Homo sapiens: one gene and its partner. The protein of the gene in region 1 purifies or fractionates together with the protein of each later gene. This does not show direct contact. Each region holds a gene or a part of one and is shown in the gene's direction. Other genes may lie near its edges.

Evidence for each region. Proteins that work in one complex are often made in the same cells at the same time.
Region 2: the proteins of NETO2 (region 1) and CCDC82 purify together in Homo sapiens (affinity purification with mass spectrometry; one large-scale study listed by BioGRID and IntAct). This does not show direct contact.

Annotation. Positions count from the first base shown.
Region 1 is NC_000016.10:47,133,863-47,137,519, reverse strand, and holds part of NETO2 (neuropilin and tolloid-like protein 2 isoform 1 precursor), read left to right. Parts: intron 1-3,284; exon of another isoform or gene 3,285-3,450; intron 3,451-3,657. UniProt on the Homo sapiens protein: Accessory subunit of neuronal kainate-sensitive glutamate receptors, GRIK2 and GRIK3.
Region 2 is NC_000011.10:96,383,386-96,387,042, reverse strand, and holds part of CCDC82 (coiled-coil domain-containing protein 82), read left to right. Parts: exon of another isoform or gene 1-749; 5' UTR 750-789; exon of another isoform or gene 790-1,106; intron 1,107-2,281; 5' UTR 2,282-2,295; coding exon 2,296-3,081; intron 3,082-3,569; coding exon 3,570-3,657.

The DNA of each region.
Region 1 (3,657 bases):
CGACTCAACTCCTTTTCGCCCACCCCTGCCCTGCCCAATCCATATTGGTCCAAACATGTCTCCTGCCACTACCAAAGGAGGGAAAAGGCCACCTCTCACTGTTGCTTTCAGTAATCTGCCATGCTCCTGTTGCAGTGGTACTCACAGTGTGGTCCCAGCTCCAGCAGCTTCTGCATCCCTAGAGAATTTGTTAAAAGGCAGATTCTCAAGCCCTGCCTCAGACCCAGTGGATCAGAGTCTCTGAAAGTACTCCCATCTGTGAGTTAATAAACCCAAGGTGATTATGATGCACATTAAAGTTTGAGGACCACGGTCACAGTGATTCAGTTCCCACACCTGGAAGTAGAAATGCTGGTGGGATTTGCACATTTTTGAGCCTTAATATATTCTACCAGATTAACCTCCAAAAAGTTGTGCCAGTTTGTAATCCAGTGGCATTATATGAGTATGTCAGTTTCCTATAGCCTGACCAACACTAGAATCTGTACATGTATATATGTATGTATGTTTGTATGTTTGTAAGGCTGAATTTTTGGGTTTTGGCACATTTTTATGATGGTCTAATCTTTTTTCCCCCATTTATTATTAGTTTTTATTTATGTGTCTGTCGTTAGTAAATGAAGGTGCTCTTCACCTCAAAATATATACATAATTCACCTTTTTTTTCCCAATCTAGTATTTATTTTTTGTTTTTAGCTTGAAGGCGAGATCTATTTTTATTTCAAAGAATTAATATGTTATCCCAGAACCATTTATTAAATCCATCCTTTCACCAAGGATTTCAAATACCATGTATATCATAATAAATTCTTGGGGCTGGGTGTGGTGACTCATGCCTGTAATCTCAGCACTTTGGGAGGCTGAGGCGGGCAGATCATTTGAGGCCAGGAGTTTGAGACCAGCCTGGCCAACACAGTGAAACCCCGTCTCTACTAAAATAGAAAAAATGAGCTGGCCGTGGTGGCGCATGCCTGTAGTCCCAGCTACTCAGGAAACTGAGGTACGAGAATTGCTTGAACCCAGAAGCAGAGGTTAAGTGAGCCAAAATCACGCCACTGCACTCCAGCATAGGCGACAGAGTGAGACTGTCTCAATCAGTCAATAAATAAAAATTAATTCTTGGATATATATATCTATTTCTGAGCTTTTAATTTTTTTCCATTTTGTTATCTGTAAGGTGCTGGAGAATAAGGACCTTGTCTGTTTGGTTCATTGCCACCAGGAAGTGACTCACTACCTGTTAGACAATGGGTTCCTGCATGTATTTAACAGATCATCTGTTTCTTCCTATGTCATTGCTACATTTTTTAATTACTGTAGCTTTACAATAAATATATCATATATTGTTTTTATTTATTCTATGTGATTTCTAAATTTTCTTTGGCCAGTATAACAAAGTCTTCAAGATGAGCATCAGAAACGTTTTGTTAAGTCCAAAAACAGGACCCACTAAGAGTTTGATTAAAATATTAAATGTATGGCCTATTGGAAAGACTCATTATCTTTGCAGCATTATTTTACTGCTCAGAAACATGTTACTGCTCTGTTTTATTCAGTATATTTATTGTTTATTTATTTTAGTTTTACTTTCTTCCCTTAATAGGTGTAATAATTTTTCAAATAATTCTCTTGAGGTTTTTAGGTTTTCAATAACATTGAAATCTATAAATAATAATTTTGTCTTCTTTCCAGTATTTATTGCATTCACTAGAATTGCCACTATTAAGTAATAGTGAAAAGAATAAATTTGACCTTTTTTTTTTTATTTTTTACAGTGGAAAGTAGGCCTTAAAATTGGAAGGCCTAGGAACAGAATTGTCTGCTTAGAGCTAAAATGACAGTGATTCAGGGTAAAAAGAGGAGGAATAAAGGGAGTGGCTTTGAGGATTGTTTAACAGCCTGAATAGCACCTGTCTTTTATCATCTGAGTGACTTCATTTTAGGTCAGATCTGTACACAGGTCTGACTAAATAAGACTAAATTCAACTCTAGAACCAGGAGTAACATCATAAATGGTGGACATTACCTTTTTCAAGCATCAAATCACAAGCAGTTCTCTGTACAATCAAATTGCATGGTTAAAGAGTTTAGAATTATTTTTGTGTAGATTTCTGCCTTATAGAATTAGCGCCTTCCTATATACATTATCATTGAATTCAAAGTGTGAGGTCTTCCTGTATTTGAGATATAATTGATCCTTTTGGTAAGAGGAAACAGTGGCACCTAGATTGGGAATAAAGACAGAACAAAGAACCACAGAACTGCTTCATGTGCTAAATAATTGCAGGGTTTAGCATTAATGGAATTTGTTTTAATATCTCAGCCTGATTATAACTCAAGCAGTGTACAAAGACCTTGTTATACAACTCAGGAAACTGTGTTTATAATGATACAGAATTTAGAATGGATTAATAGTCACAACTGTATTACCAAAAACTGTATCAGTACATCTTTCTATCCCTAATTGCTGTGCAGATTCGCCCTATTCTTTATACGTCGTTTTTATATTTAGTGGCACAGCTCATTTGGTCGATTGAGTTGTGAATAGCTAGTAATTACTTGAGAAAAAAAGAAAACTGTGCAGCCCTCTAAATAAAGTTGAAAAGAATATAATAGGCTATTTGGCCTTGCAACTTTATTTTCAGTATGATTGTTCTGCCTTACTTGTGTATTCTGTGCAAATTTCATAAAGCAGTTATTTTATACAAGCACATTTTTATTGGTCATTGTATACCGTAATTGTGCTGGCACAGTTCATCCCTTTGCCATAGTTGCCGTTGCTGTCTTGCCTTCAGTTTATTGGCCTCTTACATGCCCTGTCTGCTGGCTTTGTGTGGTTATTTGCTTATAGATGGATTTGTAAATGTCAAACTGGTAAATAGTTACACCTGTGATTAAGGAGGAATGGTATACTGCGCACGAAATATTGACCAGTGGCATATGATCTGAATGATATGCCTGGGGAGATAGTGTCTACTAATGAGATAAATTGACACAAATGGTTGGGTTATTTGCTGAATTATCAAATACCTACTATTACCTGACTTTTCTTTTTGATCATAAATCTTCTGTATTAAAAAATGTTTCAAAACTCCATTCTTCTAATCAGATCCAGTGTAAAGATGTGAAGAGTTCAAGATCTCAGCATAACGTGAGATCTTCAACACTACCATCAACCAAAAAAAGGGAAGGGGGAAATTAACGTTATTGAGAAAAGACAGAGGAGACACAGAGGTCAGCAAGGATGCAAGAAACCAAGGATGAAGAGGTCAAAGAATTAGATTTTAAGATACGAACTGAATAACAAGAGCTACCTCTTAACCATTTCTACGTTGGTGACTTTGGTAGTAGACACCCAGTACGTGCTATTGAGTGAACAGTGGTAACTGTCTACCAACCACTTGCACTAGCAGACTCCAGTGCCTCCACCTCCCTCACCCCTCACGTCCTGTAAGTTGCACTTGACTCTACACCTGAACCATGTCATTAGTTTCTCCTCCTTTCCCTTTCCACTGCTACCACTCTGCTTCAAAGATGGTAATGCAAACATGATCACCTTTCCTTCCTAATCTTCTCTCTTCTCATTAAAAGTATAGACCCCACACAACCATTAGGATTATTGGTCTAAAACACAGAAGTGATAATGTCATACACTTG
Region 2 (3,657 bases), on another chromosome or scaffold:
AAATTTATGTGTTTACAAATACTTTTTTGTACTATACAGCTTAAAAATGTAAGATGCCTAGTTCGTGTGGTGCTAAACCAAAGAAACAGTAAGCTGCTTAAAACCTGGAGGAGAAACTGGGTGGACGTATTGTAACGCAGTATAGTGTACACAAAACCATACTTTAATATAGAGATTTTTTTAAAGGGTAATTTTGACTACACACAATTTTCATCTTTGCTGATTTTAATATAAGCCTTTTGTAAGATGCAACCCAAGGGTAATTTCAAATAGCAGACTGCCCTGTTGACCAGAATTTGTTAGATTGCTATTACAATGCTGATTATATTTTATAGCAATTACTGACATAAGGTTATACTTTGGGCAATGGCTCATGCCTGTAATCCCAGCACTGAGGCCAAGGTGGGAGGATCACTTGAGGTCAGGAGATCAGGACATAGTGAGACCTCCATCTCTACAAAAAATTTAAAAATCGAAACATATCGCTTGAGCCCCAGGAGTTCAAGGCTGTAGTAATCTATGATCATGCCACTGCACTCCAGCCTGGACAACAGGACAAGACCTATCTCTTAAAAAAATAAAAGTTATATTTCATCCTACACGCTATAATTTCTGCTGTATAATTTTGGCAGCCCCCGTTCTGATTTTACATGAGGTGTTAACCATTATACAGAAAGTCTTATTGCCGTATAAACATACCAGAATTTGTACAATTAAATGAGCTGTATCCTCTCTTCCACAATCTATAGGAAAAAAGTAATCCTCTTGGAAAGCTGGAAACATAGTCCGGTAAGATTCCCATTGCTCAAAAAATTTTTGGCATTGAATTTTTGTAATTACCTTCAGAATTCGCAGCACATTTTTTGAAGATTTTTAATGGTAGTTAATTCTCATCTTCTTAAGTTGGATTTCATTTCTGCAAGCTGCTAACAGGTCCTTATAACCGAGACAAGTGAATGAAGTGGGTGTTAAAGTCACTGTTTGGGATAAAAAATGAAGTGTGATTATTTTCATATTTTTAGATTTTTTATAGTGTGTGGTTTATAGAAAGACTCCAGGAATATTCTGTGCTGTGGTGGAAATATTGGAATAATCAGCCTCATAAGGTGATTTCTTTGGTGGGGATAGCTGTCAGTTCAATATATACCTCTAACATGTAGTTTGAGGTCGGTCTCATTACATTGTCATATTTCTATTCCCTAACAACCACAGAACTACATATGTTATTTTTTCTAGTTATCTTACGTGTCACTAATTGTTCTTTTAATATATACTTGTGATAATTTTAATGGAATTCATTCTTTTCTAAATGATAAACTGACAGCTTTTGTTTTCCTTCCCAATACTATGCTCTGCTTTGCCGTGGAACTTACTTGTTTTATTCACTTAACTACATTATTGGATTGTTAGTTAAGTTTTCTATTGGTTATATTGTGTATTTAACTTTGAGGGGAAAGCCACTCCCATTTTACTAAGGTATAAAGAGGCTACAATCTTAGTGGATATATTATCTCTCAATTTTTCACTGCTGTCTTCTTTATGTCATTTGTTACTTTATAACTTTCTTCGTGTAAATTGATCTTTTATACTTTATATCATTTCTCTATTCAGAATCCTTTGCCTACAGGGTGAGTCATCCTGGTAATCCCATTCAGTTTTCTATTCTTTTCTCCTTTTTTCCAGCATAAAACTCTTTTTTATACATTTTAAGCCATGCTTATTTACTGAACATACCATCTTCTTTCTTAAAGCCAGAGTTTGCCCTTACCATATTACTTGCCTGACATCCCTTTTTCTTTCGTTCTTTCTGTTCAAATACAATGAATCCTTCAGAATGCTATTAGATCACATCTGTTCAAGATAAAGTGAAGCACTTGCCTTACTGATCTCCCTGCATCTTTCCACTTCTCTTGCAGTTATTTATGTTATTCATTTGATACTAAATATTACCTTGAAATTTTCTTAATTATTATATGTTTTAGATATTTTAGTTCTACATATAGATAATAATCTTCTGAAGGACAGCACCATGATTTTTCTATGTATCCCTTGCAGCACAACATACAACGTAATTCAGAGTAGATGTTCATATAATTATTTCATGGGCATTCAGTAAATTATTTGTTAAATTAATGTTCTACCATCTTCACTCAGATATTTCATGTGATTTTGTGTTTGTGGACCATTAAATAAAGCCAAATAAATATAATTTATACCATAAATGCATTCATTGCTCTAATCTGGTTATCACTGTTATATTCCTAACAACTTTATTTTATAGAAGCTTAAGTGAAAATGATACATGTTAGAAGACATGAAACAAGGAGAAATTCTAAGAGTCACGTGCCTGAGCAGAAATCTCGAGTTGATTGGAGGCGAACTAAAAGAAGTAGTATCTCACAATTACTTGATAGTGATGAAGAGCTTGATAGTGAAGAATTTGATAGTGATGAAGAGCTTGATAGTGATGAAAGTTTTGAAAATGATGAAGAGCTTGATAGTAACAAGGGACCTGATTGTAATAAAACACCAGGAAGTGAAAGAGAGCTCAACTTAAGTAAAATTCAAAGTGAAGGAAATGACAGTAAGTGTCTCATTAACTCTGGCAACGGTTCAACATATGAAGAAGAAACGAACAAAATCAAACATAGGAATATTGACTTACAAGATCAGGAAAAACATTTAAGTCAAGAGGATAATGATCTCAACAAACAAACTGGACAAATAATAGAGGATGATCAGGAAAAACATTTAAGTCAAGAGGATAATGATCTCAACAAACAAACTGGACAAATAATAGAGGATGATTTAGAAGAAGAAGACATCAAGCGAGGAAAAAGAAAAAGGCTATCCTCTGTGATGTGTGACAGTGATGAGAGTGATGACAGCGATATCCTAGTTAGAAAAGTAGGTGTTAAACGTCCCCGTAGAGTGGTTGAAGATGAAGGTTCTTCAGTGGAAATGGAGCAAAAGACTCCTGAAAAAACATTAGCTGCACAAAAGCGAGAAAAACTTCAGAAGCTCAAAGAACTCTCAAAACAAAGATCTCGTCAGAGACGCAGTAGTGGTAGAGATTTTGAGGTGTGTTATATTTTGTTGGATTTGTTATTGTTTTTCAGTTTTTTTCTTAAAGTATTTAATTTTTATAAAAAAGTGCTGAGTCCGTTCCATTTCTCAATAATTCTAGAATTTATTTTTTAATCAAGTATTCTTGAACATGTTTGATTACACTATTGTACGTAATATACTGTTTTATCATGAGCCTCAGTCCATCCTTTTTTAAAATTGAAAGACTATTTGTTATTTTATATGATCTTTCTTGTTTTTAACTTCTTATAATTCTAATGTCCATTTTAAACATTTTACATCACTTAACCAAGGTATATTCTTCTTAATAATTTCAAAAGTTCAGCATTTAATATGACAAAATTATTTATTTTTAACTTTAAAATATGAAGTTAATTACTATGGATCATTTTTTTGCTGTCAGATTTAATGTTTTAATTTTATATCGATGCTTACCGTTTTAATAGCACCATTTACTGAAGCATTTATTTTAATTTAATTAGGACTCTGAAAAGGAATCTTGCCCAAGCAGTGATGAAGTTGATGAGGAGGAAGAAGAGGATAATTATGAATCTGATGAAGATGGAGATG